Regions from separate parts of the Homo sapiens genome. Here all the other regions are linked to region 1. Evidence: fine-mapped expression QTL. A gene starts in region 1. Each other region holds a variant in brackets. All regions are shown on one strand. Distances are from middle to middle. Region 1 holds the start of SOS1 (SOS Ras/Rac guanine nucleotide exchange factor 1). Region 2 overlaps CDKL4 (cyclin dependent kinase like 4). Region 3 overlaps CDKL4 (cyclin dependent kinase like 4). Region 4 overlaps CDKL4 (cyclin dependent kinase like 4).

What was found. PIP is the estimated chance that this variant, and not a neighbour inherited with it, causes the effect.
Region 2: its variant is the best candidate, but not a certain one, in a credible set for the expression of SOS1 in testis (GTEx, PIP 0.60).
Region 3: its variant is the best candidate, but not a certain one, in a credible set for the expression of SOS1 in whole blood (INTERVAL, PIP 0.84).
Region 4: its variant is the best candidate, but not a certain one, in a credible set for the expression of SOS1 in naive CD8 T cells (Schmiedel 2018, PIP 0.88).

What each region holds. Positions count from the first base shown.
Region 1 is chr2:39,117,188-39,125,141 of GRCh38, forward strand. It overlaps SOS1 (SOS Ras/Rac guanine nucleotide exchange factor 1), which reads right to left and starts at 3,864. Exons shown (of 23, transcript NM_005633.4): 1 at 3,149-3,864. The coding sequence starts at 3,235. RefSeq lists enhancers at 2,734-2,813, 6,661-6,830, 6,861-7,010 and silencers at 3,014-3,733, 7,311-7,440.
Region 2 is chr2:39,217,949-39,225,902 of GRCh38, forward strand. CDKL4 (cyclin dependent kinase like 4) reads right to left here. Exons shown (of 10, transcript NM_001397900.1): 3 at 7,891-7,954. Among named protein-coding and RNA genes, the nearest start is that of CDKL4, 22 kb to the right of the region's middle. RefSeq lists an enhancer at 1,806-2,307. The variant G/C (reference allele first, on the strand shown) is at 2,908.
Region 3 is chr2:39,209,437-39,217,390 of GRCh38, forward strand. It overlaps CDKL4 (cyclin dependent kinase like 4), which reads right to left. Exons shown (of 10, transcript NM_001397900.1): 4 at 3,964-4,036. Among named protein-coding and RNA genes, the nearest start is that of CDKL4, 31 kb to the right of the region's middle. RefSeq lists a silencer at 98-298. The variant G/C (reference allele first, on the strand shown) is at 4,150.
Region 4 is chr2:39,194,404-39,202,357 of GRCh38, forward strand. All of the region lies in intron 5 of CDKL4 (cyclin dependent kinase like 4), which reads right to left. Among named protein-coding and RNA genes, the nearest start is that of CDKL4, 46 kb to the right of the region's middle. The variant T/TAA (reference allele first, on the strand shown) is at 3,857.

The DNA of each region.
Region 1 (7,954 bases):
CAGGCTAATTTTTGTATTTTTTAGTAGAGATGGGGTTTCACCACGTTGGCCAGGCTGGTCTTGAATTCCTGACCTCGTGATCCGCCCACCTTGCTCTCCCAAAGTGCTGGATTACAGGCGTGAGCCACTGCGCCCGGCCCTGTCATTTACCTTTTTAGCCTGAGTGTCAAGGGCAATACCTGGTCTATAGTAGGCATGATATATTTGTGCAATAGATAAGATAGGACTTAGACTCATAGATGCGGTGAAACAGATACAGTGGGACATTCCAGCCATATTCAGGAAAAGTAGCAGTCCGGACTGGCTAAAGCAAAAAGGAGATAAAAGGTTATGGTAGACAATCCAGTCAGAAAAGCAGGATGAAGCCAAATATCAATTGCTGTTAATTCTATGCTAAAAAGTGCACTTTAGCATAGGTTGAACTCAAAAGACATCAACAATTCTGAGTGTGACATGTTCAGAAGTGTCCTATAACTGGTGAGATTTGAAAAACAGAAGGTGAGGTGGGGGCCAGTGAACCCCATTAAGAAGTTATCACAGTAGTCTGACAAAGGAGACTCAATTAGAGAAGTCGGAGGAGGAATAGACTAGAAGAACATGTCAAAGGGAAATGAACATACAGGCTCTACCTGAGTGTGCACAGTAATACAAAGAAGCCAGAGATGACCCCAACATTTTAAACCAGTCAAATGTAACAATAAAGCCATTAATCGAGAAGAAAAACTGAAATGACAGGTGGAGGAGAGAAGTGATAGTTTTAGTTTGTATATCCCCTCACCTATTTATTCAAATTGAGTGCCTACCAGATGTCAAGCACTATAAGTATGGGGAATAAAATGTGGGTAAGATATCATCCCTGTTCTCAAGGAGCATCCAATCTAGTTATAGGCAAGTAAATAGGAACTTAAAATTCACAGAGCTAGGACAGGGTGCAAAAAGAAAACAAAGGAGTAATATCCAACTCAGCCCTGATGATTTGACAGTTCAGGTTGAGTGAGTCTAGAAGGATGAGTAGTGTTGGACCAGGCAAAGAAGGATGAAGGGACTAGCATATCCAAAGAGCCTCAGGTAAGAGTAAGAGAACACAAGTCGGATGTATCTACGAATAATTCAATAACAAATCAAAGGAAGAAATCAAGATATGGAGATATCCACATGAAATGTCCAGCAGGCAAGTAAAAACGTAGGTTTTGAGCTACCAACAGCATATCCAGATATGAAACATACTGTATTTTCAATCTTGTTTAGAATCATTGTTAGTGGCTATTTAAATAAGAATTGGAAGAACCTTACATATCAGCTAGATTATGTACACTTCCACCTCCTCCTATCACTTCTACTGCAAAAGTATCTCTAACTTAAAGTCAAAAGCTGTTTTATGTAAATATGCAAAAAGGACAAGTGGGGGCTGTGGTAAGGTGGAGATACATGACCTGTCTAAAGAAGGGAGCCATTTACTCAACTCCAGCAGTTTAGTGCCTCGCTTGAATACAGGCCCTAAATGACAAGACCTTCCTATTCTTCAAGAAAAGCCGAAAATTCAGGTTTTATGTAATATCTCCCATTTTCAAATATTAGCAACTAATTACATTTAAAAATAAAACAACACTATGCCAGCCAAACAAAATGCTTTTGTGGACAGATTTCAGCAAGGGCCACCAGTGTGGCAGAATTAAACAACGTCTGTCAACTCCTACAATATTCTTTCCACTGCTTCAAAGGATCCTCAGCTGATACCTTGGTGATTCCCCTGGGAAAGGAGCTGCTTTTGCCTCTAAGCAAAATGGCCCCTATTTGGCAATGCTTTATGAGTTCCTTTACACGTTTTTAAACAATTTCCGTGTCTCCCCTTACTCTATCCGGACACCAGCTTCTAGCATCACAGAGACCTCCTACACCCCTTCCATTACAAGCTAAGAAGTCAAACTTGCAAGTAAAGCAAAAGTAAGGAGTGAGAGCCTGAAGGGATTTCTAAGGAGTAAAGTATGTAAGATATATGGCATCTTTTCTTCTGTTTTTTAAAAAAAATTACATAGATGTTTGTGACTAGTCAGACACTTGAAGGGGAAAATGTCCGTAATTTAAGCCAGAAATATATGAGCAAATTCTCCTGAAAAACCAAATAGTTTCCACTGTAAGACAGCAAGAGGGACCGGAGGAGAACAGGGCAAAAGGGAAAGTAAAAGTTACTGGCCTTTGAGAAATATCAGACACCTTTTAATGTTTAGCATAAAAGGTAAAACATAATCTCCATTCTTAGTAGAAGCAGTTAGCATGAAACATTCTTTGAGCAGCAAGAAACTGGGATTTAGAAACACTATTAGAAGAGTAAAGCAATCTTTACAGAAAAGGTAAATGAAGAAAAGAAAACAAAAATAGTCTGGTTGTCACACTGCTGCTTTAGAAGCTTTAAAAACGTAAGAACACTTCCTAATTATACTAAAACATTTAAAAGCACAGATCGGGGGTATGTAACTTCAGGTAACAATGTAGCAAACTTAAACATACAAAGGCTAAAAATTCTTAACAAGCCAAATGACAGCACCAAGAATCTCGAACGCTGCAAAAACAAAACAAAACCCCCCTGAAATTGGTAGCATGTGCACCAGCCCCTGTTAATCGGAGGAGCGGGGGAAACCAGGAGAATGAGGAGTGAATACTGACGGCGAGCAGAGCAGGCCACGTTCCTACTGGCAGGCGAGCTCGCAATTCCTTTGAGCAAGCCTTACGGCCAGGGCATTCTCAAGCCACTAAAACCAGCGTACTGGACACCTAAAACGGTAGGCTGACAGCAGCTCCGGGCTAAGACCAAGAAGACGGAAAAGTGGCCTGCTTTGACCTCCGCTGAAAACTGAGGCTCCTCCAACTGTTGTTGTCCTGGAATCAAAGGGCAAAGCATTCACCTCTCAGGGGTTGGATTATCCGGATAAACTCCCCCCGGCTCCCTGCGGCATTCCCACACACCCGGTGGATGTCAACACCGAGAGCCAGCCGTATGAGGGGGGCCTCTCCGTGTGCGCCGTCCTTTTGGAGACGCGGCGAGACCGGGAAGAAAGACGGCCCTGCGCGCGCCCCGCCTCCCCAGCCCTTCCCCAGCGCCCGCGCTGGGGGGCTGCGGCCGGGAAGCGGGGTCCCGCGTGCTCCTCACCTTTTTCAGCGCAGGCACCAGTAGTCCCCGCCACTTGGGCGCGTTCTCTTCGCTGAAAAACTCGTAGGGCAGCTGCTGCGCCTGCATGGTGCCCCCGGGGCGCCTCTGGGCGGGGAGAGGGGCGGCGGCGGCCGGGCCAGGGAGCCGCGAGAGGGCGAGCTCGCAGCGCGGAACAGGGCCGCGGCCCCACCGGACGGCCCGGCCCCCTCCGGGCGCCGCGCAGCCGGGCTAGCCCTGGCGAGGGGGCTGGGGGGCGAGGCCCGCGCCTGGCCACCCACCCGACACAGGTACCAGCCGTGGAGAACGGACGCGGCCCGGAGGCGGCGGCATCCCGCACCACCGCCCCGGGGCCAGGCCCCCCGCCCCTCCCCGGCCCGCCGGCGCCGCCCCGGGCTGCCCTCTGCCGCGGCCGCCGCCCGCCCGCCGGGGCTGCACTCCCGGGCCCGGTCTGGCCCCGCGGCGGAGCTGGCGGCTGGGGGAGGACGTGTGGAGGGACGCTCCGGCCGCGGCGCCCGCTCCGCGTAGTTGGGACTCCGAAACGCAAGAGCCCCGGGCGGGGCGGAGCTGGGGCGGAGGTCTCGCGGGGAAGGGGAAGGACCGGAGGTCGTTGTTGGGGAATCTGGCTGCCCTGAGGTGCCGCCGCGGCCGCCGCCGCCACCGCCGCCGCCGGTGTAGCGCTGGAGCTTCCTACTAGCGAACTGAACCTGCTCGCTACTGAGCATGCGCTGCCGTGCTGGGCTGGTTCGCTCCGGGTTTTCCGGCTCCCGGTGAAGGAGGAGGAAAGCTCGAGAGAGAAAGAGAGAGAGAGACAGGGAGGGCGCCCGGCCGGGCTGTGGCTGCGCTCCTGGGGGCTGCAGGGGAGGGGCGAAGGGGCCCGAGAAGTCGCACCCTGGCAAAGTGGGGCCTGCAAGGGTGGGTGATGACTAGGGTAAAGAGGCTCCCCATTGTGTGGCCTGGCCGTGAGGGCTCCCACCCTTCTCGGAGTCCCTGGGCCCTTCGTTTCGGAAAGGGGTGTGTGTACTTTGTTCCTGAACACGAAGATAAGGACTGCCCAGAGCACGCAATGTATAGTAAACAGACTGGACAAAAGACAGGTGCTCTGTCACGAAACCTACTGCTCAGTATCTGCTGAGTAGTAGAAGTGATTGCGGTGTTTCTAAGTGGTCTTTCCACAAAATAATAAAATGTGTACGTGTAGTATTGATTTTGTGTGAATGTTTTAGATTCCCTCTGTTCATCTTTTAAACCCACTCCAGAAATGAACTCCAGTAAGCACTTTCCTCCAGTGGATATCGAGACCTCTTTTACAGCTCCTAGAGCACTGCACTTATGCCCCTCTCAGGGCGTTCAGTCTATTGTGTTTTGTTATCTTTTGCGGTTCTTTCGACTAGATAATAAACTGGAAGGCAGATCTTTTTCACCAGGGCCTCTACACAGTGTAGAACAGGCACTCAGTCAATGTTAGTGGAATGCTAAAGGAGCAGTATTTATAAACTGTCCCTCCAGGCCACTGTTTGTTTATAATAGGGGCACTTTGTGGCAGACACCTTATGATTTATCATTAATTATCATTTTTTTGAGTATCATCTCATTTAATCCCCATAGCAACCCTATTATTTTCATTTCACCGATAAGAAGGCAGTTTAGAGGAACTAGCCTGGGTTAAAGCTGACATTGTGTCCTGCTATTCCTGAGAACAGTAACCAGGATCACATAAACGAGAAAGGTTCAGTGGTTCTTAATCTTTACAGGACCTCTTTGAAAATCTGGAAAAACAACTCTTAGGTTATTTCCTTTAAAAATACACAGGCCGGCCAGGCGAGGTGGCTCATGCCTGTAATCCCAGCACTTTAGGAGGCCGAGGCGGATGGATCACCTGAGGTCAGGAGTTCCAGACTAGCCTGGCCAACACTGTGAAAACCTGTCTCCATAAGAAATACAAAAATTAGCCGAGCATGGTGGTGGGCGCCTGTAATCCCAGCTACTTGGGAGGCTGAGGCAGGAGAATCGCTTGAACCCAGGAGGCAGAGGTTGCAGTGAGCCGGGATCATGCCACTGCACTCCAGCCTGGGCAACAAAACCAAAACTCCGTTTCAATTCAAAAAAAAATATACACACACACACACACACACACACACATACACACAGACCGGCCGGGCGCAGTGGCTCACGCCTGTAATCCCAGCACTTTGGGAGGCCGAGGTGGGCGGACCATTTGAGTTCAGGAGTTTGAGACCAGGCTGGCGAGACCCATCTTTATTGTTTTATTGAAAAAATAAAAATATACATACTTGGTTTACATTTGAAAAACTCCCCACTTTCAAAGTGTGTGGAATGAAAGCTGGAATTATAGGCGCCTGCCACCACACCCAGGTAATTTTTGTATTTTTATTAGAGATGGGGTTTCACTGTATTGGCCAGGCTGGTCTCGAACTCCTGACCTCGTCATCCACCCGCCTCGGCCTCCCAAAATGCTGTGATTACAAGCCTGAGCCACCGCGCCCGGTCAGCCCTCTTCAAATATTTAAAGGGTTGTGATATGGGGGAAGAGATTGGTTTGTATGGTTCCAAATGAACCAACATCAAGCCTGTACCCCAAACTATTGCTTGGCTTCCCATTGCTCTTAGAATACATTTCAAACTTCTTACCGTACCCCACAAAGGCGTGCATCTGGCTCCTGCTCACATTCTCAATGTTTTCTCACCATTCACAACCTCGCCTCACCACACTCCAGTCACAGTAGCCTTCTGTCTATTCCTAGAAAACAACAACCTGCCTAAAGAACATTGTTCTTCTCTCAGCCTAGAACCCCTAACTGTTCCCTTGGCTGGTTATAAACATCACCACCTCCAAGAGGCCTTCTCCGATCACTCCAAGTAATTCTCACCTGTGTATTTCTACCTTATGTTCTTTTTATTTCCTGCTAGCACTAAATCAAATCAGTCCTCTATTTTTGGTTGTTGGTTTCCCTCCTGCCCCCAAATAAAATGTAAACTCCTAGAGAGAGAGAAACAATCTTTTTTTTTTTTTTTTCTTTTTCTGAGACAGAGTCTCATTTTGTTGCCCAGGCTAGAATGCAGGCGGAATCTTGGCTCACTACAACCTCCACTTCCCAGGTTCAAGTGATTTTCCTGCCTCAGCTTCCCGAGTAGCTGGGACTACAGGCGCACGCCACCAAGCCCGGCCAATTTTTGTATTTTTAGTAGAGGTGGGGTTTCGCTAGGTTGGCCAGGCTGGTCTCGAACTCCTGACCTCAAGCAATCCACCCACCTCCGCCTCCCAAAGTGCTGGGACTACAGGCGTGAGCCACCGCGCCCGGCCGAGATCAACAATCTTGTGCGTTTCGTTCTTCATTGGTTTTAATCGTATCCCCGGGGCCTACAATGCCTGCACACAGTAGGTAGCAATAAATATTGTCGAAGGAATAAAATGTGCATGCAGGAAAGTTCCAGGACTACATAATCAACGTTGTTTCCAGAAAACGGGCGATTTTCGGGGTGTGCAGGTAAAAAGCGTACATTCACTCACTCGGGCTAAGAGGTTGGGCATGTTGACCTCTAAGATCCCCTTCAACTCCGAATCTCTGATTTGACTGCAGAGGAAAACAAGCCCTAGAAACATGGGTTACAGCCTGGGCTAGGCTTGCTTAGCGGCCAGGGCAGGTTTTCACTAGCATGGCCGTTTGGGCCGTAGACAGGGCGGGTAACTGGAGAGAAACTGCAGTGAAGAGACTCAGTGCTTCGCAGCGGGGAGACCTACAGGGAGTGCCAGGGTCAGCCCCGCTAAGGTCAAGGAGCACTCCATCACCCCTGTACTGCTTGCCTGTATCTCTTGGGACAAAACAAAACACCTATGTCCATTCAGCAAGAGAAGACAACCGTGCGGACTCAGAAACGTGCAGACGGGTAGGCACGTGTAGACGTAAAAGTGTCGCCCACCAATCCCCCGCGCCAGCCCCTCAGCTTTTACCGCCGACGGGTGCGCCCTGGCGCAGGCGCAGAGGCTTCTTTTCGCTTCCCTCCTCAGCTCTAAGGAGCCTCACGCCACGGCGGACGTGACGCACGAGGCGCGTCCGGGCGGAATAGGCGAAGACCGAGAGGGGCGCGTCCAGGCGGGCTAGCCGAGTTCCGAGCGCGGCGCATCGGAGTAGGGCGGCGAGGACGGGGGCGGGGGTGGGCGTTTGGCCCTTCAGTGTGCCCCCTGCAGGTGCAAGTGCAACGCTCCGCGCCTTTGCCTGCCCTGCTGGCCAGGACGCGGCCACCTGGTTCTCTGCCTTGCTGCAGCCACAGTGATCCTTCTGACGCGAACTTCGGACCCAGCTACTTACTTTTCTGTTCAAGAACTCACACTGGCGTCCCAGGATAAATTCCAAAGTCCTTAACCTGGTATCCATGGCCTTGCACAATCGGACCGCTACTTATCTTTCTAGCTGTATCTCTCACTCAAAATGAACTGCTCTTGCCTCCTACAAACACATCACTTCTGTCTCTGTCTCCTGCTATTCAGAATGCCTGTCGCCTTTTTTCTCTAATGCCGCCCACCACAGCCCCACCCCAGCTCCCAGATACACGCTCGCGCTGGAACTCTTATCCACCCTGCGCGCCCTCAGCTCAAATGCTACCTTCTCTCTAAAGTTTTTTTTTTGTTTTCGGCTCTGATTCCTTCAGAGCCGAACAGGTAGAAGGAACAGCAGTTTCAGCCATCAGCAGTTAAGGTACTCTCTCCTCCAGAACATATTCACCCTCTGTCTTTCCCTCACCCTCTGTCTTTCCAATGCCTCCTTTCAATTCCTCTCCTCCAAAAAA
Region 2 (7,954 bases), 100 kb after region 1:
TCTTGAACTCCTGACCTCAGGTGATCTGCCTGCCTCGGCCTCCCAAAGTGTTGGGATTACAGGCGTGAGCCACTGCGCCTGGCCCCCAAGGCTTATTTATACTTTCAATCAGGCTGTTAATAACATTTTACTTCTATTTCTATGTTTACTTCTATTTCTACTTCTATTAACAGTTTATTGTTCCTTCTACTTCCTTTTAGTTATGAGTAATTTTCTGTGTTAACTTGACTAGGTTAAGGGATGACCAGATAGCTGCTAAAACATTATTTCTGCCAGGTGCAGTGGCTCATGCCTGTAATCCCAGCACTTTGGGAGGCTGAGGCAGGAGGATTGCTTGAGCACAGGAGTTTGAGACCAGCCTGGGCCACATGGCAAGACCCTACCTCTACTCAAAGTTTAAAAATTAGCCAGACATAATGGTGAGTGTCTGTGGTCCCAGCTGCTCAGGAGACTGAGGCAGGATTTGCTTGAGTTTGGGAGTTTGAGGCTGCAGTGAGCCATGTTCAGGCCACTGCAGAGAGTGAGACAAGTGAATGAGACCTTCTCTCAAAAAACAAAAAAAACCCAAAACATCATTTGTGGGTGTGTCTGTGAGGGTGTTTCTGGAAGGGATTCACATTTGAATCAGTAGACCGCGTAAAGAAGACCCACCCACAAAGGTGAGGGCAGGCAGGCAGGCATCATCAAACCCGTTGAAGGCCTGGATACAACAAAACGGTAGGGGAAGGGCTGCTTCTCTCTCCTTGAGCTGGGACGTCCATCTTCTCCTGCCCTTGGATGTGGAAGCTCCTGGCTCTCAGGCCTTTGGACTTTGAAACTCTCTGTCCTCTGGGGCCTTAGGACTTGGCCTGAATTAGACCATCGGCTTTCCTGGTTCTCTAGCTTGCAGATGGCAGATTGTGGAACTTCTCTCCCTCCATAATCACATGAGTCAATACCAATAATAAATTTCCTGTTATCAGTACCTCTATGTATCCCACTGGTTTTGTTTCTCTGAAGAACCTTGACTAATACACCTCCTGGGCATTCTCTAACTCCACACTGTGCTTTATTTTTCTTCAAAGACTCATAACTCTTCTTTATTGTTGGACTACATCAGAATGTAAATTGCACAAGGGCAAGGACTTTCTCTTGTCCGTTATTATAGCCCCAGCACCTAGAACAGGACCTGGTACCTAATAGGAGCTCAATTAAGCTTGTTTCTCTGGCACTCCCAGAAATTTTATAAACTAAAACCCTGTGACAAATCTCTTTCTCTCTGAACTAGCTAGAGTGAATTCTGTTGTTGAATCCTGACCAATTCAGGACATGGTAAAAGAAGTGGATGTGGGAAACAATCCAAGGCTGTGAGAATCTAGGATTGGATATCTGATGTAATGAGGACGGAAGGGCAGCATCTAATTACCATTAATGGCTGGGATGCTGGCAGATGGCCACTCAGTAATGAAACAGGTACTTATTTATTTATTTATTTATTTATTTATTTTTTTGAGACAGAGTCTCGCTCTGTCACTCAGGCTGGAGTGCAATGGCATGATCTTGGCTCACTGCAACCTCTGCATTCTGGGTTCAAGCAATTCTCCTGCCTTAGCCTCCTGAGTAGGTGGGACTACAGGTGCCTGCCACCACACCTGGCTAATTTTTTGTATTTTAGTAGAAACGGGATTTCACCCTGTTGCCCAGAGTGGTCTTGAACTCCTGACCTCAAGCAATCTGCCTGCCTCGGCCTCCCAGAGTGCTGGGATTACAGGTAGGAGCCACTGTTCTTGGCCTGAAAAGGGAATTTAAATAATCACCTGAGGCCATCTGGAATAAAATGCCTATTCAAGGCAAGGCTTTGGTGAACTAAGTGTGATAGAACAATATGGGGAACATAAGTAGTAACAGACATGTGAGGTGGTCTGGTTGCTTCTAACTTCACTGGAGAAATTAAAGAAAAAAAAGCACAGGTTCAGAGCTTTAATATCTTGGTTCAAGGCACAGTTAGGACGTCAGGCATTTTGATATCGACCCTAAAAGAACCCCTTACTTCTTGTTTCTGTAGGACCCACTTCACAGATCCACTGGGATCTCCATGAGATTACTAAAACACTGACACAGACAATAACCCTGCAGGGTGCTCAATGACAACAAAGACTGAATTTATGTGAGGATAATTAGTTTCTCAGTTAATGAGATGAGAAGGAAAAATAGTCCAGGAATTGGAATGTGACACTTGAAAGTATTCATGTAACTAAGAGCACCCTAACTTCCTTCCAAACTTCTCTTCTCATAGGAAGTAGCCCCCAAACTTGTACAATAAGGCTGGTTCTGCCTTGCTGCAGACTCTCAGATCTCACCTGAGGCAGGTGCATTTTGTGGGGATGCCCGCTCTCTTCAAGCCTCCTCTCCCCACCTCCCCTCAAGGTCTCCAAACCTTAACTAAAGTCAGATCCCAGCATGACCCAGGGGGCCTATAACAAAGTGAAACAGAGGAAGAGGAGATTTACATAGCAAAAAGAACTACAACATTTTGCTGATTTATAACGGGGAATGTATGAAGAAATGGATTTCATGGGTGTTGGACCAGAGGGGAAGAAATATGACTTTAGATTGGGCTGATTATAACAATATGGGCACAACTTATTCGAGATTCTGGTTTTTTTTTTCTTTTTTTTGAGATGGAGTTTCGCTCTGTCGCCCAGGCTGGAGTGAAGTGGCATGGTCTGGGCTCACTGCAACCTCTGCCTCCCAGGTTCAAGCAATTCTGTCTCAGCCTCCCGAGTAGCTGGGATTACAGGCACCTGCCACCACGCCTGGCTAATTTTTTTGTATTTTTAGTAGAGACAGGGTTCCACCATGTTGGCCAGGATGGTCTTGAACTCCTGACCTCAAGTGATCTGCCCTCCTCGGCCTCCCAAAGTGCTG[G/C]GATTACAGGCATGAGCCACTGCGCCTGGCCCAACTCTTCTTTATGCTGTAATTTAGTCGTTGGGTCCCTTCATTATCTCACCATCCCATGGCTCAATCCGCATTCACTACATCGACGATCTTTTTTTTTTTTTTTTTTTTTTTTGTTTTTTTTTTTGTTTTGTTTTTGTTTTTTGAGACAGAGTCTCGCTCTTGTCGCCCAGGCTGGAGTGCAGTGGTGCCATCTCAGCTCACTGCAATCTCCGTCTCCTGGGTTCACACCATTCTCCTGCCTCAGCCTCCTAAGTAGCTGGGACTACAGGTGCCCGCCACCACGCCTGGCTAATTTTTTTGTATTTTTTAGAAGATATGGGGTTTCACTGTGTTGGCCAGGATGCTCTTGATCTCGTGACCTTGTGATCCAGCCACCTCGGCCTCCCAAAGTGCTGGGATTACAGGCGTGAGCCACTGCGCCCGTCCACATTGATGATCTTATGCCCACACACCAGTTATTTATCCTACGTGTTTCCTCTAGTAAACAATAGTCCAAAAGGCTTGGTATGTATACTAGCTGGTTGTTTATCTCTGTTTGCTATTCACTGGGCTTAGGCCTTTAAAAATACTCTCTGGCCTGTTATTTAAATAGATTTTAGGAAGGGAGTACAAGTAGATGAATGCTTTAAATTAATCATTGTTATCTAGAAGTACCCAACATTTCATAAAAGAGCAGCATATTCTAGATTGTTCCTATTTGCATTACTCCATGCATAATAGATTGAAGTCTCAGGGCTGACGCAACGCACTACTGAACACCAGCAGTGCTAAGCACATTTGTAAAACTTAAGAGTGCAAAGTGGGATAGTTCAGAGGTCCCTGGCATTGCAAAACACATATTCAACAGAGGAGTTGCTTGAACATGCCTTGCTCTTTCTTGTGTCTCTGCATTCCGCCAGGGGTGTCCATCTGGCCAACTCCTCTTCCTTTTCAAAGCCCAAATGCTGCCTTCTCTGCAGAATCTCCCTCACTTCCCGGGGTCAACAGATGTTGGAGTTGCTTCTCTTGTGCATCCCTTGCATCAACATTAACCCAATCAACATAACCATTTGTAGTTGTTACTTTGAATATCTGTCTCTTCATCACATTTTAAGCTTCTTGAGGGCAGGACTGTATCATTATAACTGTATCCTCTGCACCAGTGTAAAATGCTCCATGAAATATTTTTTGAGCGAAAGAATGCTAGGCATAAGGAAGCCATTAAGATCAATGAGACATGAAGTATGCCCTCAAAAAACTTATACTCTAGTGAGAGAGAGTATGCACATAAAAACATATACGGTATAAATACCAAGTACCACAACAGGGATGAAAATAAAATTCAATGGGGATTCAAAGGAAGGAAGAAATTCCATCCAGATGAAGGAAACTTAGAGATGTTACAAATATCTAGGATTTCACATTTTAAAGATTATGATAGGCCAGGTGTGGGGACTCATGCCTGTAATCCTAGCACTTTGGGAGGCTGAGGCAGGTGGATCACCTGAGGTTAGGAGTTCGAGAGCAGCCTGGCTAACATGGCAAAACCCTGTGTCTACTAAAAATACAAAAATTAGCCGGGCATGGTAGCGGGTCCCTGTAGTCCCAGGTATTTGGGAGGCTGAGGTGGGAGGACAGCTTGAGCCCAGGAGGTAGAGGCTGCAGTGAGCCGAGATCGCCCCACTGCACTCCAGCCTGGGCGACAGTGTGAGACTCTGTCTCTAAATAAATAAATAAATAAATAAATATTATGATAGAGACAGTGAAGGTGAAAAAGGCTAGAACCTTCTAGATTAAAATGAGAAGAACATGAGCTAAGTCTATAGACAGGAAAGCTTAGGATACAAGTAGGGAAGAGAAAGATGTTCAAGTCAAGCAAACTGGTGTATGCATTGAATGTTTTATAATAGTTTCAGGGCCTTGAACAATACATGAAGTAAGCATAAATTTCTAACTTCATGAAAATGTATGTTAATTTATAAATTAATTTATAGAATGGCTGAACATATCTGTCTTCTAAGTCAACATACAACATCCTATTTAGTGCAGGATAAAGTTTAACTATGAATTAATATGCCATTTTAATTGTTTTTATATTAATTTTTATTTTAAAAGTAATATATGTGCATTCACAGAAATTTGAGAAAATTTGAGAAAACTCAAATTTTCAATTATACTTAACATTCTAGTATGTTATCTCATTTTTTCATATATCATCCCAGGAACATTTCCCCAGGACATTAACTATTGTTCTAAAGCATGCTCTCTAATGGGCTGGCTGCATATTGTACTATTGTATGGATGGATATACCAAAATGCCTGTAACCAATTATTTACTGTTGGAAAATTAGGGGAGTCCAATATTTTTGTTATAAATAATGACGTATTGAACATTCATATGTATAACTTTTGCCCTCATCTGATTATTTTCTTACTATAAATTTCTCTAAATGGAATCTCTTGATCAAAGGATGAAAACAGTTAAAATTTTTTCATACATATTGCCAAATTGCCCTCCTAATGGCACTCTCTCTAGCCATCAATGAGGAGGTCTGATTCCCTGACTGTTGATAAGACTGGGTATAATAATTTTTGAAAAATCTTTGCCAAATTTAACAGATGAGAAATGGTACCTTGCTAAAAAGTTTTGAATTTCCTTGATTAATAGGGAAGGATAAGCATGTTTTCTTAGATGTACTGGTCATTTCCTTCTCTTTTTTTTTTTTTTTGAAGACTTCTGTCTTCAAAAAAAAAAAAAAAAGAGAGATGGGGTCTCACTCTGTTACCCAGGTTAGAGTGCAGTGGCATGATCTCTGCTCACTGCAGCCTTCACCTCTTGAGCTCAAGTGATCCTCCTACCTCAGCCTCCCAACTAGCTGGGACAACAGGCTAGGTTAATTTTTGTAGTTTTTGTAGAGATGGGTTTCACCATGTTGGCCAGGCTGGTCTTGAACTCCCAAGCTCAGCTGATCCACCTGCCTCAGCCTCCCAAAGGGCTGGGATTACAGGCATGAGCCACTGCACCCAGCCTCCTTCTCTTTTTTAATGATTTGCTTCCCATGTTCACTGGAAGGTAAGGTGAGGCTCCTTTTCTGTGTGTGCTCTGTTCAATGCTGTAGACTTAGCACTGGCTGGGTGCACAGTCTACATTTATGAAAGTTTTTTTTGAATAAATATATTTATTAATTGGATGTTAACCTTTTAAAAAATGTTATTTGTAAAATCTGCATAGGTAGACATAAAATTTATTCATTCTGGCAAATAGTTTACCCAATATCTCATTTCTATTTTAGTTTTGTTTATGGTACTTTTTTGTCAAAGGGAGTCTCTTAAACTACTGTGATTTAATATTTGACAGTTAAAAGTCCCTTTTTTCTCGATTTAGTCTTTTTCAAATTTCAAAAAATACCCTATTGGTATTCTGATTAGAATTTTGTTTAATAAACAGATAAACTGTAGAGGCAATATTTTTATAATCATGAATATTTCCATTTAGAAACATGTTCATTTAAATAAAATCCTTACATATCTCAGTTTTGTAGTTGTCTTCATGCAGAGTCAGAACAACTCTTTATCTTTATTCCTAAACTTTTGTTGTTGTTAATATTTGAATGGGATCCTTCTCCACTAATTTTTTTTTTTTTTTTTTTTCTTGAGACAGAGTCTTGTTCTGTCACCAAGGCTGGAGTGCAGTGGTGTGATCTCGGCTCACTGCATCCTCCGCCTCCTGGGTTGAAGCAATCATCGTGCCTCAGCCTCCCGAGTAGCTGGGACTACAGGCACCCACAACCACACCCAGGTAATTTTTATCTTTTTAGTAGAGACAGGGGTTCACCATGTTGGCCAGGCTTGTCTAGAACACGTGAGTTCAAGTGATCCACCTGCCTCAGCCTCCCAAAGGCATGAGACACTGCACCCAGCCATTCTCTGTTAGATTTTCTAAAGTGTTGTTTGATACAAATGCTGTTAATTTTTGCATGTGGAATCTGTCGTGTTATAGGGGTCGCTGTACTGAATTCCACTGGTTTTAATAACTCTTTAGGTGGTTCTCTTAGATTTTGTAGATCAGTAATATCTTGCAAATAATGACAATTTTATTTCATTTCCAAAAGCTATGTTTTGTTTTTCTTATTACATTACATTGGCTAGAGTTCTCAGAACAACGTTGCATTATAGTGGTGACAGCTGACATCCTTGTCTTGTTTCCTCACTTTAATGAAAGTTCTTTTAGTTTTACCATTGAGTATAACATTGGCAGTTGATTTGAAGAGGGGTGTGTGTGCCAACACTTTGGGAGGCCGAGGCAGGTGGATCATGAGGTCAGGAGTTCAAGACCAGCCTGGCCAAGATGGTGAAACCCCGTCTCTACTAAAAATACAAAAATTAGCCGGGCATGGTGGTGTGTGCCTGTAATCCCAGCTACTCGGGAGGCAGAGGCAGAGGCAGAGAACTGCTTGAACCCAGGAGGTGGAGGTTGCAGTGAGCTGAGATCGCGCCACTGCACTCCAGTCTGGGCAACAAAGTAAGACTCCATCTCAAAAAAAAAAAACTATTCTTTTAATCCTAGATGCTAGGGATTAAAAAAAAATCAGGAAAGGATGTTGAATTTATCAACATTTCAAATTTTCAAATTTATCAATCGTACATTTTTTTATCTTATTAGTGAATTATATGAATAGGTTTCCTAGTATCAAACCATGGTTCATTCCTTGAACTCAGATAATCCAATACATAATTTAGCCTCAAATTCATTTTGATTTTATATCTGTGGTAGGTTTTTCTCCTAATTATAACTCCTATAGGTAAATCATTGTTTGCCTTTTGAAGACATCCTGAGACTGGATGGGGTAGCCAGATGCATTGTGGTAGAAAGGGGAATTGTGGCTGGGATTTGAAATTTGCCATGGTTAATTCCACAGAAAATGAAACTGAGAACTGGCTGTACAGAATTTCAGTTTCCAGATTACTTACCCATTTGGGTTTCTTTCCAGCTCATTTAAAAGTGTATGATCACAGTATTCAAAAACTAAATGCA
Region 3 (7,954 bases), 92 kb after region 1:
CCTCACTCTAGTGATATTATAGGGTAAAAGAGAACCAAATGAATACGTATTTTCTTAAGTCCTGCGCTTCTCCAAATTTAATGTGCACATGAATCACCTGGAGCTCTGGTTAAAATGCAGACTCTGATTCAGCAGGTCTGTAGTGGACCTCAGATTCAACATTTCTAAAAGCTCCCAGGTGATCTCTATGAACCATAGTTGGAGTAGCAAGGCCTGAATCCCTTGGTACTTTAACCTGCAGTGTCCTGTTTAGGATCTCGACTCTGGAGATGATAAGGTGCACATGGTCTCTACAGGTTTAAAGCTGTGAGTCGTCAGCAACACCACTAGGTCAGATTGCCTTTTCTACTCTTTGAGACTATCATGGGAGTTCCTTTAAAAATAAGGAGAGTATAAAGGTTTTAGTTGTATTATTGTGACAGCTTTATATATGGCTTAGATTTTTTTCTTTGCAAGCATTTTAATTATAGATAAATAAAAAGGCAGATACACAAAGGCTTACCATAAGAAAATGAGAAGTAATTTCCATCTTGGAGGAGGGAAGTTAGTCTGAAAAATTATCTTTTTTTGAGACAGACTCTTGCTCTGTCGCCCAGGCTGGAGTACAGTGGCCCGATCTTAGCTCATTGTAACCTCTGCCTCTCGAGTTCAAGTGATTCTCCCACCTCAGCCTGCTGAGTAGTAGCTGGGATTACAGGCATGCATTGCCATGCCCGGCTAATTTTTGTATTTTTAGTAGAGACAGGGTTTCACCATGTTGGCCAGGCTGGTCTTGAACTCCTCACCTCAGGCAATCTGCCCACCTCAACCTCCCAAAGTCCTGGGATTACAGGCTTGAGCCACCACACCTAGCCTGAAAAATTACCTATTTTTAATAGAGGCCACATATTATCAGTCAGAAGTTTTCAGTGTTTTAAAGCTTAGGGTATAGAACGTGTTGTTCCAAGCACAGAAATGATGGCAGTTGCGTTGGTCTACAATAATGTTTGGCTCCACTGGAAATAGTCACAATCAGTTAGGCAGTTTGGGTTGACTGACTGATTGACTCATCCAACCATCCACCCATCCCTCCATCCAGTTATTCAATAAATATTTATTGATCACCCTGTATATAAAAATATCCAATTTAGGTATTAAAGAGATACAAAGATAAAGCAGCCACAGACATTGCATTCAAGCTTATAACCAAGTACCCAGGAAAGTGTCTGGTTATATAGGGATAAAGTATAAACACTTGTGGTAAGTGGTATTTTTAGAAATCATTTTAACTACCCATAAAACTCCTGCAGCAACTTTGATATCTCCTATAGCATGGTGGAAAGCAACAGAGATAAGGATTCCATTTGGCATCATCTTTATTAAGCATCAGAAAGCACAATTTGCATCATGAAAAATAGGTTTATGTATTTTGTGAAAAATATCCCTCTACATTAATAGAAAATAAAAGCTTTTGATTTAACCTAATAAAAACTTCACTGACTTTCCTAAAACTAAAGAAAGCTTCCCCTCCGTATTGAAATGTATTCTCATGATCTTGTACTTTCTTTTTCAGCAATCCTAGACTGCTATGATAGACATTCTGCTGGCATCAAAACTGACCATATGGTACTCTGTATCATTGCCTCAGCACTGTCTCTGTCTAGGCACCAACTCAAAAGGGCTAGATATATTTTTTTAAAAGCTATCATTGGCTGAGTGCAGTGGTTCACACCTGTAATCCTGGCACTTTGGGCAGCCAAGGCAGGAGTTTGAGGCCAGCCTGGGCAAGATAGTGAGACCCCCATCTCTACAAAAACAAAAATTGGCTGAGTGTAGTGGCATGTGCCTGTAGTCCCAGCTACTCAGGGAGGCTGAAGTGGGAGAATCACTTGAGCCCAGGAGTTTGAGGCTCAAGGGTGCTATGATAACACCACTGCACTCCAGCCTGGGCAGTAGAGCGAGACTGTCCCAAAAATATAATGATATATAGCAAAGGTACCAGGAGCCAACTTGAAGAAGCTCATGTTGGCCTAAGATGGGAAAATCTGAGCATGGGAGAGACCAATGACAGCAAAGAATTGAAAACACCACAATACAAAATTTGTGTTTATAATGGTGCTCCAGCCACCTCTCCCCAAAACTTGTCATTGTTGCTAAGATATCATCTCATCACCCTGAGTGTTGATAAATAAAAGTAACCAGAGTCCATGAGGATGAGTTCTTTTCCATACAATTCCAATTATTAAATGCAGAAGGAATAACAGAATTAGAAAATTACTGTCACGAAATACTAGATACAGGCAATAATCATCACTGGATGCTAAAACCATCAGGGAAACAACGTTGACAGGGAAAATGATAATGGAGGGGACCAAACGAATACCTCCTGAGCCCACTCATCAATTTTAACATTATCGAAAGTGGGACAAGTGGATGCTATACACCTCATAATGGGGATGCGATATGAAGTGTACAGCACCACATAGCAGGCATTGTTAACTAAAAAAAGCTGAACCTGAATATGATCAAGCCTCTAGATATAAACTCCAATTTACAGGAAATACAAGTGAAAGAACACGTTAAATTACATACAAGAAAAAGTCAGCCAAAATTATTTCTCTAACATAGTGGTTCTTGAACCAACAGCTTCAGTAGCATCTGGGAAAATATGAGAAATGCACATTCTTGGGGCCCTACCCAAGACTGACTGAATCAGAAACTCTGGGGGTGGGGCCCAGGAAGCTGTGTTTTAACAAGCCCTCCTTGTGATTTTGATGCATGCTCAAGCTTGAGAACTACGGCTATAAAAAATTAATGAATTTTTTTTTTTTTTTTTGAGACAGAGTCTCACACTGTCGCCCAGGCTGGAGTGCAGTGGCACGATCTCGGCTCACTGCAAGCTCCGCCTCCTGGGTTCACACCATTCTCCTGCCTCAGCCTCCCGAGTAGCTGGGACTACAAGCACCCGCCACCATGCCCGGCCAATTTTTTGTATTTTTAGTAGAGACAGGGTTTCACCGTGTTGGCCAGGATGGTCTCGATCTCCTGACTTCGTGATCCGCCTGCCTCGGCCTCCCAAAGTGCTGGGATTACAGGCGTGAGCCACCATGCCCGGCCGGAAACGGTTTTTAAAAAGGAAAGGAAAGGGGCACTTAGATTGCTATCGAGTAAAGGACTTAAGAGACTTAAAAATAATAGTTAAAAAAAAAAGTACCATGGGGGATTACATCAGCAATATCCTGAAAACTTACTATTATTTTTGGAGACAGGGTCTCACTCTGTTGTCCAGGCTGGAGAGCAGTGGTGTGATCTCAGCTCACTGCAACCTCTGCCTCCTGGGTTCAAGTGATTCTCCAGCTCCAGCCTCCCAGGTAGCTAGGATTACAGGTGCGCACCACCATGGCTGGCTAATTTTTATATTTTTTCATAGAGATAGAGTTTCTCCATGTTGCCCAGGCTGGTCTTGAACTCCTGAGCTCAAAGCCATCTGCCCGCATTGGCTTCCCAAAGTGCTGGGATTACAGGCATGAGCCACCATACCGGCCCTGAAAAATTATTCTCGCCCAATTTAAAAATAGTTTCAGGGGTCACTGGCACTATGGCAAAAGGAATCATTATATTTATTCAAATTTTTAATTCATAAGGAATTAGCAATTTGATTCTTACAGAAATTGGAAAGAGCCATGAATAATGCATCACTTTTTTCTCATATTTTGAACTTTCTTTTGTTATTCCCTTTTCTTCTTTTTTGCAGAGACAGGGTCTTGCTATGTTGCCCAGGCCTGTCTCAAACTCTGGGGCTCATGTGATCCTCCCACTTCAGCCTCCCAAGGTGCTGGGATTACTGGCTGAACTTCCTTTTGTTTTGCTTCTTTGGCTCTTACTTTCCCTTTGTCTTCAGCTCTCCAAACAAAACCCTGAGCTATTTAGAAGAAAAGAGTCATCATGAAGAAATGAATAAATACATTAGAAAATGTTACTTACGTTATGTATATGACAGAAATTAAGAGCTTGAAGTGTTTGCCATAATACGCTTTTGATCACTCCATCAGCAACTCTGAGGGAAAAAATAAAAAAGGAAATGAAAACTCATAGGATAGAGTTCCAGAAGCAAGGGCTGGGAATAGAAGTGGAGTGGTGAGGGACTGTCCTCTTCAAGGAACACCATGC[G/C]GAAGGGTCCTAAAAATATATTTTAGTGAAAATTGGGCTTTACTATCTTTTTATTATGGTTATGTAATTTCCTTTTGTAATTTGAATTTTTTACATCCATAAAATGATGCATGCTTATGAAGATTCAAAAAATATAGAAAAGTAAAGGAATAAAAAAAAGAAAAGGAAAGGAATAAAAAAAAGAAAAGTAAAGGAATAAAATGTGTTGGGTCAAATCTTGCTACCCCAAAATAACTGCTATAACTTCTGGTGGCTCTCTTCAGGCATCTCTGCTCCTCTCTCTCCCTGTCTCTCTCTGTACTTTTTTTGTTTTGTTTTGTTTTGTTTTGTTTTGTTTTGTTTTGTTTTTTGAGACAGGGTCTGGCTCTGTCACCCAGGCTGGAGTGCAGTGGCATGATCTCAGCTCACTGTAACTTCCTCCTCCCAGGTTCAAGAAATTTGATTCTCCTGCCTCAGCTTCCCAAGTAGCTAGGATTACAGGCACGTGCCACGATACCCGGCTAATTTTTGTATTTTTAGTAGAGACGGGGTTTTGTCATGTTGGCCAGGCTGGTCTTGAACTCTCGACCTCAGATGATCCACCTGCCTCGCCCTCCTAAAGTGCTTGGATTACAGGTGTGAGACACTATGCCCGGCCAGTATTTACTTTTTAACTTTAATTTTAAAATAAAAACATTCGTATGGTTCAAATTTTAAACATATAAAAGTATATACATGAAGTCTCTCTGACACCTGCCTAGCCACCCATTTATTTTCTTCAATTTCACCCCTGACCACTTTGAGAATTTTATGCATAGAGGTACAAATACCAACATGTACACATATATTTTAGAGGCTCCAGAGGAGATCATTATATGGATATATCATAATTTACTTAGTCTCTATTGATGAGCAGTTAAGTTCAGCCAATTTTTGTTTCTAGAAAGTCTTCAATGAATATCTGTAATCATCCATCTTATGATATTTACACAATTACCTTCTTAAGGTAAGTTCTAGAAGTGGGATTTCTGAGACCAATGGTAGGCACCCATTACATTTCGATCCTGCATGGATGAAATTCAGGTAGACCGGAGACTTGGTTTTGCAGGAAAAAAGGTATACTTGGAAGATGGCTCTTCAATTTATCTAATTCATGGTGGTAGACACTCAAGTTATTTTGTAATAGTTACTTGTCCCTGTAAGCAGATAGCCCAAAAGGCGGCCAGGGAGAATAAGGATCCCATAAGAATGAGAGGGTGTAAGCTTCTTGTCCCTGGCAGACTCATCCCTCTGTATAGAAAATACTGGGAAGTATCATGGGCAGGTGTATTTTCCACTGGGGATTGGGGGTCTGGGAAACTTACTCTGGGAGTATTCTACTTTATGTAACATCTCCATGAATTATAGCAATTACATTCTCTGTAACTTTTCTGTTGGTAGCTTTCCATCACTCACATCACTGTCCCATGATGATGCCTTCACATTTACACACTGCCAAACTACCCTTTCTGAGGAAGGTTATACCCATTTTCACTCCCACCAAACATCTGTGCATCAAAGTCCCTGTCTCCTCATTGTCTTGCCAACATTTGGTTTTGCCAATGTTATGTTTGCCAATCTGTGGTTAAAATAAAAAGATGTCTCACTGTGGTTTTTATTTGCATTTTACTAATGTTTAGTGATTATTATTTTTCACACCCTTATTGGATACTACATTTCTTCTTTTGTGTAATTCCATTTTATGCCTTTATTGCTTTTTAAATTGGTCTGTTCACTGTTTTATTATTGATTTACAAAGACTCAATGTATATCATGGTCTGTTATATATGCTGCAAATATTTTGCTCAGTGTTGTTTGTCTTTCAGCCCTGTTGATGGAGATGCGGCTGTTGTTTGTATATTTTTCAAAAATCTGAAACATAAGAGTTTCTTTTACTAAATGTCAACTGTAAGGATTTTCTTAATTTAAAAAAATTATATTATGTAATACCCCAAACATATCCATCACTCAGATTTAATATTTTATCATATTTGGATATTTAAATCATATATTTAGATCACTTTTTAAAAATTGAACATGTGCAGATGTAGCTGACTTTACAGAACAGTGGGAAGGCCTAGGCATGACTCAGTTATGACACTAGCTACAAGAGTCTGAAGTATATGCAGAGAAACAGCAAGTGATGTACACGGTATTTTCCTCAGAGCAGTTTCCTGATCTTGTACCACAATTATGGTGGCATGTCCTTGACATCAGTGGCCCAGTGGCAACCCTTGACCCCAGTTCTCCTAATTATTAATATTGCAAATGTACCTAATTTTCATGATTAAATCCCTTTCGACTTGAAGTGTCTATTTCCAGCACTGAATACTGATATAACTGTATTCTTCTCCCCACTTCACCTAGAGCCAAACCTGAAACAACATTGCGTACACTTTCAAAATATGAGGCAGGAAGAATAGTATAGCCATGTTGAGCACTGTGAGACAGGTTGCTTGAGTTCAAATCCCAGATATGCTGCTTCCTACTTTATAATCTTGAACACGTTATTTAAGCTCTCTGCACCTTCAATTTTCCTCATGTGTAATACTAGAATAATATCTTATAAGTTATTTGAGTAATCTATCCCCTCAATGTCTGGTTTTAACACCCACATGAGTTCTGGAGATACAGGTCTGAGATTAGATAAGGCCAGTCGATGGGATTGAGACCCCTGTACAAAGAGGGAAGAGGTGCAGAATAGCAAGAGGCCCTGAGGAGAGAAAGAACTGGAGGTGTGGGGAAAGCAGTATGAGGCCAGGGTGGCTGAAACTTGAGTGAAGAAGCCAGGAAGGTTGGCAGAAATCAGTCCATGGAGGGCCTCGGAGATCTAGATCTCAATAAGAAATTTGGATTTTATGCTAAATTCAAAACCATTGAAAGAAATCAAGCAAGGAAGTGACATAATATGGAGAATGGATTTCTGGGAAGGCAACATACATACAGAGAGAGAAATTAGGAGGCTAATTCAATAACCCAAGTGAGATTTGGACACTTAGATTATGGTGGCAGCAGTGAGAGGAAGGGAAATGGATTTCAGTCCTTGAGAGGGACTAGCGAGGGTGGAGTACATGCTCCTGCTGACATGGGAACAGAACGCTAGTCTGGTTGGGATCTAAGAGCCTACAGGTGCAGGAGAGTAAGTACTGGAATTGGGAAACAAGGTAGGGGCTAGGATTGAGAAACTGCAAAACGCCAATTACTAGCCTTAATAACAGGGAATGGAGAATGAAGTAATTTCATAGGAAAGTAATTTCATAGGATGTTAAAGATGACTTTAACATGAAAGAGGATGTTTAAAGGCATCTCACAGGAAGTGTCATATTCAGTTCAGTTAGCTTCCAAGAAGGCAGATTCCGTCAGGGGCAAAACAACACCACTGATCGTGCAAAGAGAAGATAGCCATCAAAGAGAACCACAAACCAACACCACAGATCGTGCAAAGAGAAGATAACCATCAAAGAGAGTACACATCGACGCGGCGCCCAGTCCAGAAAGATAGAGCGCTGCAGCACCATTCAGCCACAGGCAGCATTTTTCAAAGCATCTTGGAGCAAAATGAACCTCTGGTGAAATCAAAAGATGCTCAGTGTTTAAATATTATATTTTGGGCCAGTGCAAAACCAAATATTCGGTTGGTACAAAAGTAACCGAGGTTCTTGCCACTGAAAGTAATACTAAAAGTCGTAATGAAGGCCTTAAAGCAAACATGAGACATCACAGTTCAAGTCTGAATGGGCTAACAAGATAGGGTAACATGATGGGGGAATTCAGACTGAACTGCTCA
Region 4 (7,954 bases), 77 kb after region 1:
GTGGAGGTTGCAATGGGCTGAGATAATGCCACTGCACTCCAGCCTGGGTGACAGAGTGAGACTCTGTCTCAAAACAAACACACACACAAACAAACAGAAAATACTCTGCCAGCTTCATTGGTGAAGAGTAGTATTTTAATGTGCATTTATTTGATATCAGTGAAGAGGAAGATTATTTCATGTTTTTAGCCTTTTCTTTCATCTGTGAACTGTCAATATCTTGCTAATTTTTCTATTCAGAGCTTTTGTGGTTCTCTTTTAAACCAATTTATATAAGCTCTTATCTATCAACCTATTACCAATTTTGAAATATTCTCTCCTTTGGTTATTGACTTTAAAATTTTTATCTCTCTGTGTATATCTATATATCTATATATAGGAGGAGCTTAAATTTATTTTGTGGTAAAATACACATAATATAAAATTTACCATTTAACCATTTAAGAGTGTGCAATTCAGTGGCATGAAGTACATTCGGTGTTGCACAATCATCACCACTATGCACCTCCAAAGTTTTTTCCATCATCCCAGCCTGAAACTCTGTATCCTTTAAACAACAACTCCCCATTCTCCCTTCCCCCAGCCCTGATAACCACTATTCTTTTTTGTCTCCATGAATTTGACTATTCTAGGTAGAGCACGTAAATAGAATCATACGATATTTGTCCTTTTCTGTCTGTCTTATTTCACTCAGCTTAGTGTCTTCAAGGTGCATCCATGTCATAGCATATATCAGAATTTCATTTCTTTTTGAGTAAGATTTCATTATATGTATATACCACATTTTGTTTATCCACTCATCCTTGATGGACATTTGGGTTGTTTCCACCTTTTGTCATTGTGAATAATCCTACTATAAGCATTGGCATACAAATATCTTCAAGTCCCTGCTGCCAATTTTTTTGGGTATGTACCTAGAAGTGGAATTGCTGCATCATACAGTGATTCTATGTTTAATTTTTTGAAGAGCTGCCATACTGCTTTCCACAGCAGTTGCACCATTGTACTTTCCCACTAGCAATGAATGAGGGCTCTAATTTCTTCATATCTTTACCAACACTTGTTATTTTGTTCTGTGTGTTTTTTAAAAATAATAGTCATCCTAATGGGTGCAAAGTGGTATCTAACTGTGGTTTTGATTTGCATATCCCTAATGATTACCATAAGCATCTTTCATGTGCTTATTGGCCATTCGTATAGCTTCTTTTTTACTTTTTATTTTTTACATTTTTAATTAATTTTTTTTTTTTTTTTTTTGAGACAGGGTCTCACTTTGTCGCCTGGGCTGGAGTGTAGTGGTGCAGTCTTGGCTCACTGCAACCTCTGTCTCCTGGGTTCAACTGACTCTCATGCCTCAGACTCCTGAGTTAGCTGGGATTACTGGTTTGAGCCACTGCGCCCTGCCTTATATATCTTCTTTAAAGAAATGTCTATTCTGATGGCTTCTGAGGAAAATGGTTGATAGGAGGCAGGACTAACTTGCAGCTATGACTCAGACGGACAGAGCAGCGTGTGGAGACTTACATCATGAACTTTTGCTCCAAGAACTACCACAGGAACATACCAGGTAAGCCAAGAGAATCCACAGACCCTTTGAAGAAGGTGGATTACCACTGCAGGCTCTGTGGGACAGCCAAGGAGCTCTGAAGACAAAAGCCATATTCTCCTGGGAGCTCTATGGCCCCACCCACTGCCTGATCCACCCTATGCTACCGCAGCTGATGTGCTCTTGAGAGCACCAGCTCCTGGCTGGAGGTCAACCAACATAAAACTAGTGCGCATAACAAAAATACAACCAAGTCAACCAACATAAAACCAGTGTGCTTAACAAAAATACAACCAAGGACCCTCATAGAGTCCACTTCACTCCCCTGCTACCTCTACCAGAGCAGGTGCTGGTATCCATAGCTGAAAGATCTGACAATGGATCACATCACGGGACTCTTTGCAGACACTTCCTAGTACCAGCCCAGAGCCTGGTAGCTTCTCTGGGTGGCTAGATCCAGAAGAGAAATAACAATCAATGCAGTTTGGCTCTGAGGAAGCCCCATCCCTAGGGGAAAGGGGAGAGCACCACATCAAGGAAGCACCCCATGGGACAAAAGAATCTGAACAGCAGCCCTCAAGTCCCAGATCTTCCCTCTGACATAGTCTACCCAAATGAGAAGGAACCAGAAAAACAATCCAGTAACATGATGACAAAATAAGGTTCTTTTTTTTTTGAGACGGAGTCTTGCTCTGTCACCTAGGCTGGAGTGCAGTGGTGTGATCTTGGCTCACTGCAACCTCTGCTTCCTGGGTACAAGTGATTCTCCTGCCTCAGCCTCCCAAGTAGCTGGGACTACACGTACGTGCTGCCACGCCCGGCTAATTTTTGAATTTTTAGTACAGACAAGGTTTAGCCATGTTGGCCAGGCTGGTCTCGAACTCCTGACCTCAGGTATCTGCCCACCTTGGCCTCCCAAAGTGTTGGGATTACAGGCGTAAGCCACTGTGCCTGGCCCAAAACAAGGTTCTTTAACACTTCCAAAAGATCACACTAACTCACCAGCAATGGATCCAAGCCAGGAGAAAAATCTCTGAATTGGCAGAAAAAGAATTCAGAAGGTCAACTATTAAGCCAATCAAGGAGGCACCAGAGAAAGATGAAGTCCAACCTAAAGAAATAAAAAAATGATACAGGATATGAATGGAAAAATCTCCAGTGAAACAGAGAGCATAAATAAAAAAACAGTCACAACTTCTGGAAATCAAGGACACACTTAGAGAAATGCAAAATGCACTAGAAAGTCTCAGCAACAGAACTGCACAAGTTCAAGAAAGAACTTCAGCGCTTGAAGACCAGACTTTCAAATTAACCCAATCTGTCAAAGACAAAGAAAAAAAGAATTAAAAAAATGAACAAAGCCTCCAAGAAGTTTGGTATTATGTTTAACGATGAAACCTAAGAATAATTGGTGTTCCCAAGGAAAAAGAGAAATCTAAAAGTTTGGAAAACATATTTGAGGGAATAATTGAGGAAAACTTCCCCGGCCTTGCTAGAGATCTAGACATCCAAATACAAGAAGCCATCCAAATCCCAAGAACATCAGGGAAATTCATTGCAAAAAGATCATCGCCTAGGCACATAGGCATCAGGTTATCTAAAATCAAGACAAAGGAAAGAATATTAAGGACTCTGAGGCAAAAGCATCAGGTACTATAAAGGAAAACCTATCAGATTAACAGCAGATTTCTCAGTAGAAACCCTACAAGCTAGAGGGGATTGAGGTCCTATCTTTAGCCTCCTTAAACAAAACAATTATCAGCCAAGAATTTTGTATCTAGTGAAACTAAGCTTCATAAATTAAGGAAAGATACAGTCTTTTTCAGACAAACAAATGCTGAGAGAATTTGCCAATGCCAAGCCAGCACTATAGGAACTGTTAAAAGGAGCTCTAAATCTTGAAACAAATATTTGAAATACACCAAAATAGAATCTCCTTAAAGCATAAATCTCACAGGACCTATAAAACAGCAACACAATGAAAAAAACCCAGGGTATTCAGGTAACAAGTAGCATGATGAATAGTACCTCACATCTCAATACTGATGTTGGATGTAAATGGCTTAAATGGTCCACTTAAAAGATACAGAATGGCAGAGTAGATAAAAATTCACCAACCAAGTATCTGCTGTCTTTATGAGACCCACCTGACACATAAGGACTCACATAAGCTTAAAGTAAAGTGGGGGGAAAGGGTATTCCATGCCAGTGGACACCAAAAGTGAGCAGGAATAGCTATTCTCATATCAGACAAAACAGACTTTAAAGCAACAGCAGTTAAAAAAGACAAAGAGGGACATTATATAATGA[T/TAA]AAAAAAAAAAAAACTAGTCCAACAGGTAAATATCACAATCCTAAATATATACGCACCTAACATTGGAGCTTCCATATTTATAAAACAATTACTATTAGACCTAAGAAATGAGATAGTAACACAATAATAGTGGAGGACTTCAACACTCCACTGACAACACTAGACAGGTCATCAAGACAGAAAGTCAACAAAGAAACAATGGACTTAAACTATATCCTACAACAAATGGACTTAACAGATATTTACAGAACTTTCTACACCATAAATGCAGAATATACATTCTGTTCATCAACACATGGAACATCTGCCAAGATAGACCATATAATAGGCCACAAAATAAAAAAATTTAAGAAAATTGAAATTATAGCAAGAACTCTCACAGATCACAGTGGAATAGAATTGGAAATCAACTCCAAAAGGAATTCTCAAAACCATGCAAATACATGGAAATTAAATGACCTGCTCCTGAATGATTGTTCAGTCAACAATGAAACCAAGATGGAAACTTAAAAATTCTTTGAACTGAACAATAATAGTGACACAACCTATCAAAACCTCTGGGATACAGCAAAGGCAATGCCAAGAGGAAAGTTTATAGCATTAAATGCCTACATCAAAAAGTCTGAAAGAGCACAAATAGACAATCTAAGGTCACATTTCAAGGAGCTAGAGAAAGAGGAAAAAAACAAACGTAAACCCAGCAGAAGAAAAGAAATAACCAAGATCAGAGCAGAAGTAAATGATATTGAAACAACAAAAAAAACCCACAAAAGATAAATGAAACACAAATCTGGTTCTTTGAAAAGATAAATAAAATTGATAGGCCATTAGCAAGATTAACCAATAAAAGAAGAGAGAAGATCAAACTAAGCTCAATTAGAAATGAAACAGGAGATATTATAACTGATACCACAGAAATACAAAAGATCACTCAAGGCTCCTATGAATACCTTTACGTGCATAAACTAGAAAACCTAGAGGAGGATGGATAAATTCCTGGAAATATGCAACTCTCCTAGATTAAACCAGGAAGAAATAGAACCTCTGAACAGACCAATAAGAAGCAGCGAGATTGAAATGATAATTAAAAAGTTACCAATGAAAAAAAGTCCAAGACCAGAGAGATTCACAGCTAAATTCTATCAGACATTCAAAGAAAAATTGGTACTAATCCTATTGACACTATTCCAAAAGACAGAGAAAGGGAATCCTCTCTAAATCACTCTATGAAGACAGTATCACCCTAATAACAAAACCAGAAAAGGACATAACAAAAAAAGAAAACTACAGACCAATGTCCTTGATGAACATAGATGCAAAAATCCTCAACAAAATACTAGCTAACCAAATCCAACAGCATGTCAAAAAGATAATCCACCATGATCAAGTGGATTTCATACCAGGGATGCAGGGATGGTTTAACATCTGCAATCAATAAATGCGATACACCACATAAACATAATTAAAAACAAAAATCACAAGGTCATCTCAATAGATGCAGAAAAAGCACTTGACAAAATTCAGCATTGCTTTATGATGAAAACCCTCAGAAAAATCAGCACAGAAGGGACATATCTTAAGGTAATAAAAACCATTGATGACAAACCCACAGTCAACATTATACTGAATAGGGAAAAGTTGAAAGCATTTCCCCTGAGAACTGGAACAAGACAAGGATGCCCACTTTCACCACTTCTATTCAACATAGTACTGGAAGTCCTAGCTAGAGCAATCAGACAAGAGAAAAAAATAAAGGGCATCTAAATTGGTAAAGAGGAAGTCAAACTTTTGCTGTTGGCTGATGACATGATCATATATCTAGAAAACCCTAAAGACTCCTTCAAAAAGCTCCTAGAACTGGTAAATGAATTCAGCAAAATTTTAGGATAACAAAATTAATGTACATAAATCAGTAGCCCCGCTATATACCAACAACAACCAAGCTGAGAATCAAACCAAGAACTCAACCCCTTTTACAATAGCTGCAAAAAAATAAAATACTTAGGAATATACTTAACCAAGGAGGTGAAAGACCTCTACAAGGAAAACTACAAAACATTGCTGAAAGAAATCATAGATGACACAAACAAATGGAAACACATCCTATGCTCATGGATGGGTAGAATCAATATTGTGAAGACGACCATACTGCCAAAAGCAACCTACAAATCCAATGCAATTCCCATCAAAATACCCCCATCATTCTTCACAGAACTTGAAAAAACAATCCTAAAATTCATATAGAACCAAAAAAAGAGCCCACTAGCCAGAGCAAGACTAAGCAAAAAGAACAAATCTGGAGGGATTATCCTACCTGACTTCAAACTATACTATAAGGCCATAGTCATCAAAGCAGTATGGTATTGGTATAAAAACAGGCATATAGACCAATGGAACAGAATAGAGAAACCAGAAATAAAGCCAAATACTTATAGTCAAATGATCTTTGACAAAGCAAACAAAAACATAAAGTGATGAATGGACACCTTATTAAACAAATGGTGCTGGTATAATTGGCAAGCCACATGTAGAAGAATGAAACTGGATCCTCACCTCTCACCTTATACAAAAATCATCTCAAGATGGATCAAAGACTTCAATCTAAGACCTGAAACCATAAAAATTCTAGAAGATAACACTGGCTTAGGCAAAGACTTCTCATGACCAAGAACCCAAAAGCAAATGCAACAAAAACAAAGATAAATAGATGGAACTTAAACTAAAAAAGCTTCTGCACAGCAAAAGAAATAATCAGCAGAGTAAACAGACAACCCACAGTGTGGGAGAAAATCTTCACAATCTATACATCCAACAGAGGACTAATATCCAGAATCTACAAGCAACTCAAATCAGCAAGAAAAAACAAACAATCCCATCAAAAAGTGGGCTAAGGACATGAATAGACATTCTCAAAAGAAGATATACAAATGGCTAACAAAAACATGAAAAAAATGCTCAACATCACTAATTATCAGGGAAACGCAAATCAAAACCATAATGTGATACCACTTTACTCCTGCAAGAATGGCTATAACCAAAAAAATAAAAAAAAAAAAACTACAGATGTTGGCATGGATGTGGTGAAAAGGGAACACTTTTACACTCTGGAGGGAATCTAAATTAATACAACCACTATGAAAAACAGTGTGGAGATTCCTTAAAGAACTAAAAGTAGATCTACCATTTGATCCAGCAGCCCCACTCCTGGGTATCTACCGAGAGGAAAAGAAGTCATTATATAAAAAATATATTTGCACACGCATGTTTACAGCAGCACATTTGCAATTGAAAAAATATGGAACCAGCCCAAATGTCCATCAATCAACAAGTAGATAAAGAAAATGTGGTATATATATACCGCAGAATACTACTTAGTCATACAAAGGAACAAAATAATGGCATTTGCAGCAACCTGGATGGAACTGGAGACCATTATTCTAACCATTATTCTAACCATTATTCCTGAAATAACTCAGGAATAGAAAACCAAACATCTATGTTCCAATAAGTGGGAGCTAAGCTATGAGGACACAAAGGCATAAGAATAATACAATGGACTTTGGGGACTCAGCCGAAAGGGTCGGGCGGCGGGTGAGGGATAAAAGACTACACATTGGGCACAGTGTACACTGCTCAGGTGGTGGGGGAACCAAAATTCCAGAAATCACCACCAAAGAACTTATTCACATAGCCAGGTGTGGTGGCTAACACATGTAATCCCAGCACTTTGGGAGGCCGAGGCAGGCAGATGACTTGAGCTCAGGAGTTCAAGACAAGCCTGGCCAACATTGCAAAAACTCATCTCTACTAAAAATTTAAAAATTAGCTGGGTGTGGTGGCGGGTTCCTGAAGTCACAGCTACTTGGGAGGCTGAGGCAGGAGAATTGCTTGAACCCAGGAAGTGGAGTTTGCGGTGAGCCGAGATCACACCGCTGCACTCCAGCCTGGGCAACAGAGCAAGACTCTGGACACTGTCTCAAACAAAACAAAACAAAACAAAACAAAACAAAACAAAACAAAACAATGAACTTTTTCAAGTAACCAAACACCACCTGTTCCCCAAAAACCTATTGAAATAAAACAACAAAAAAGAAATG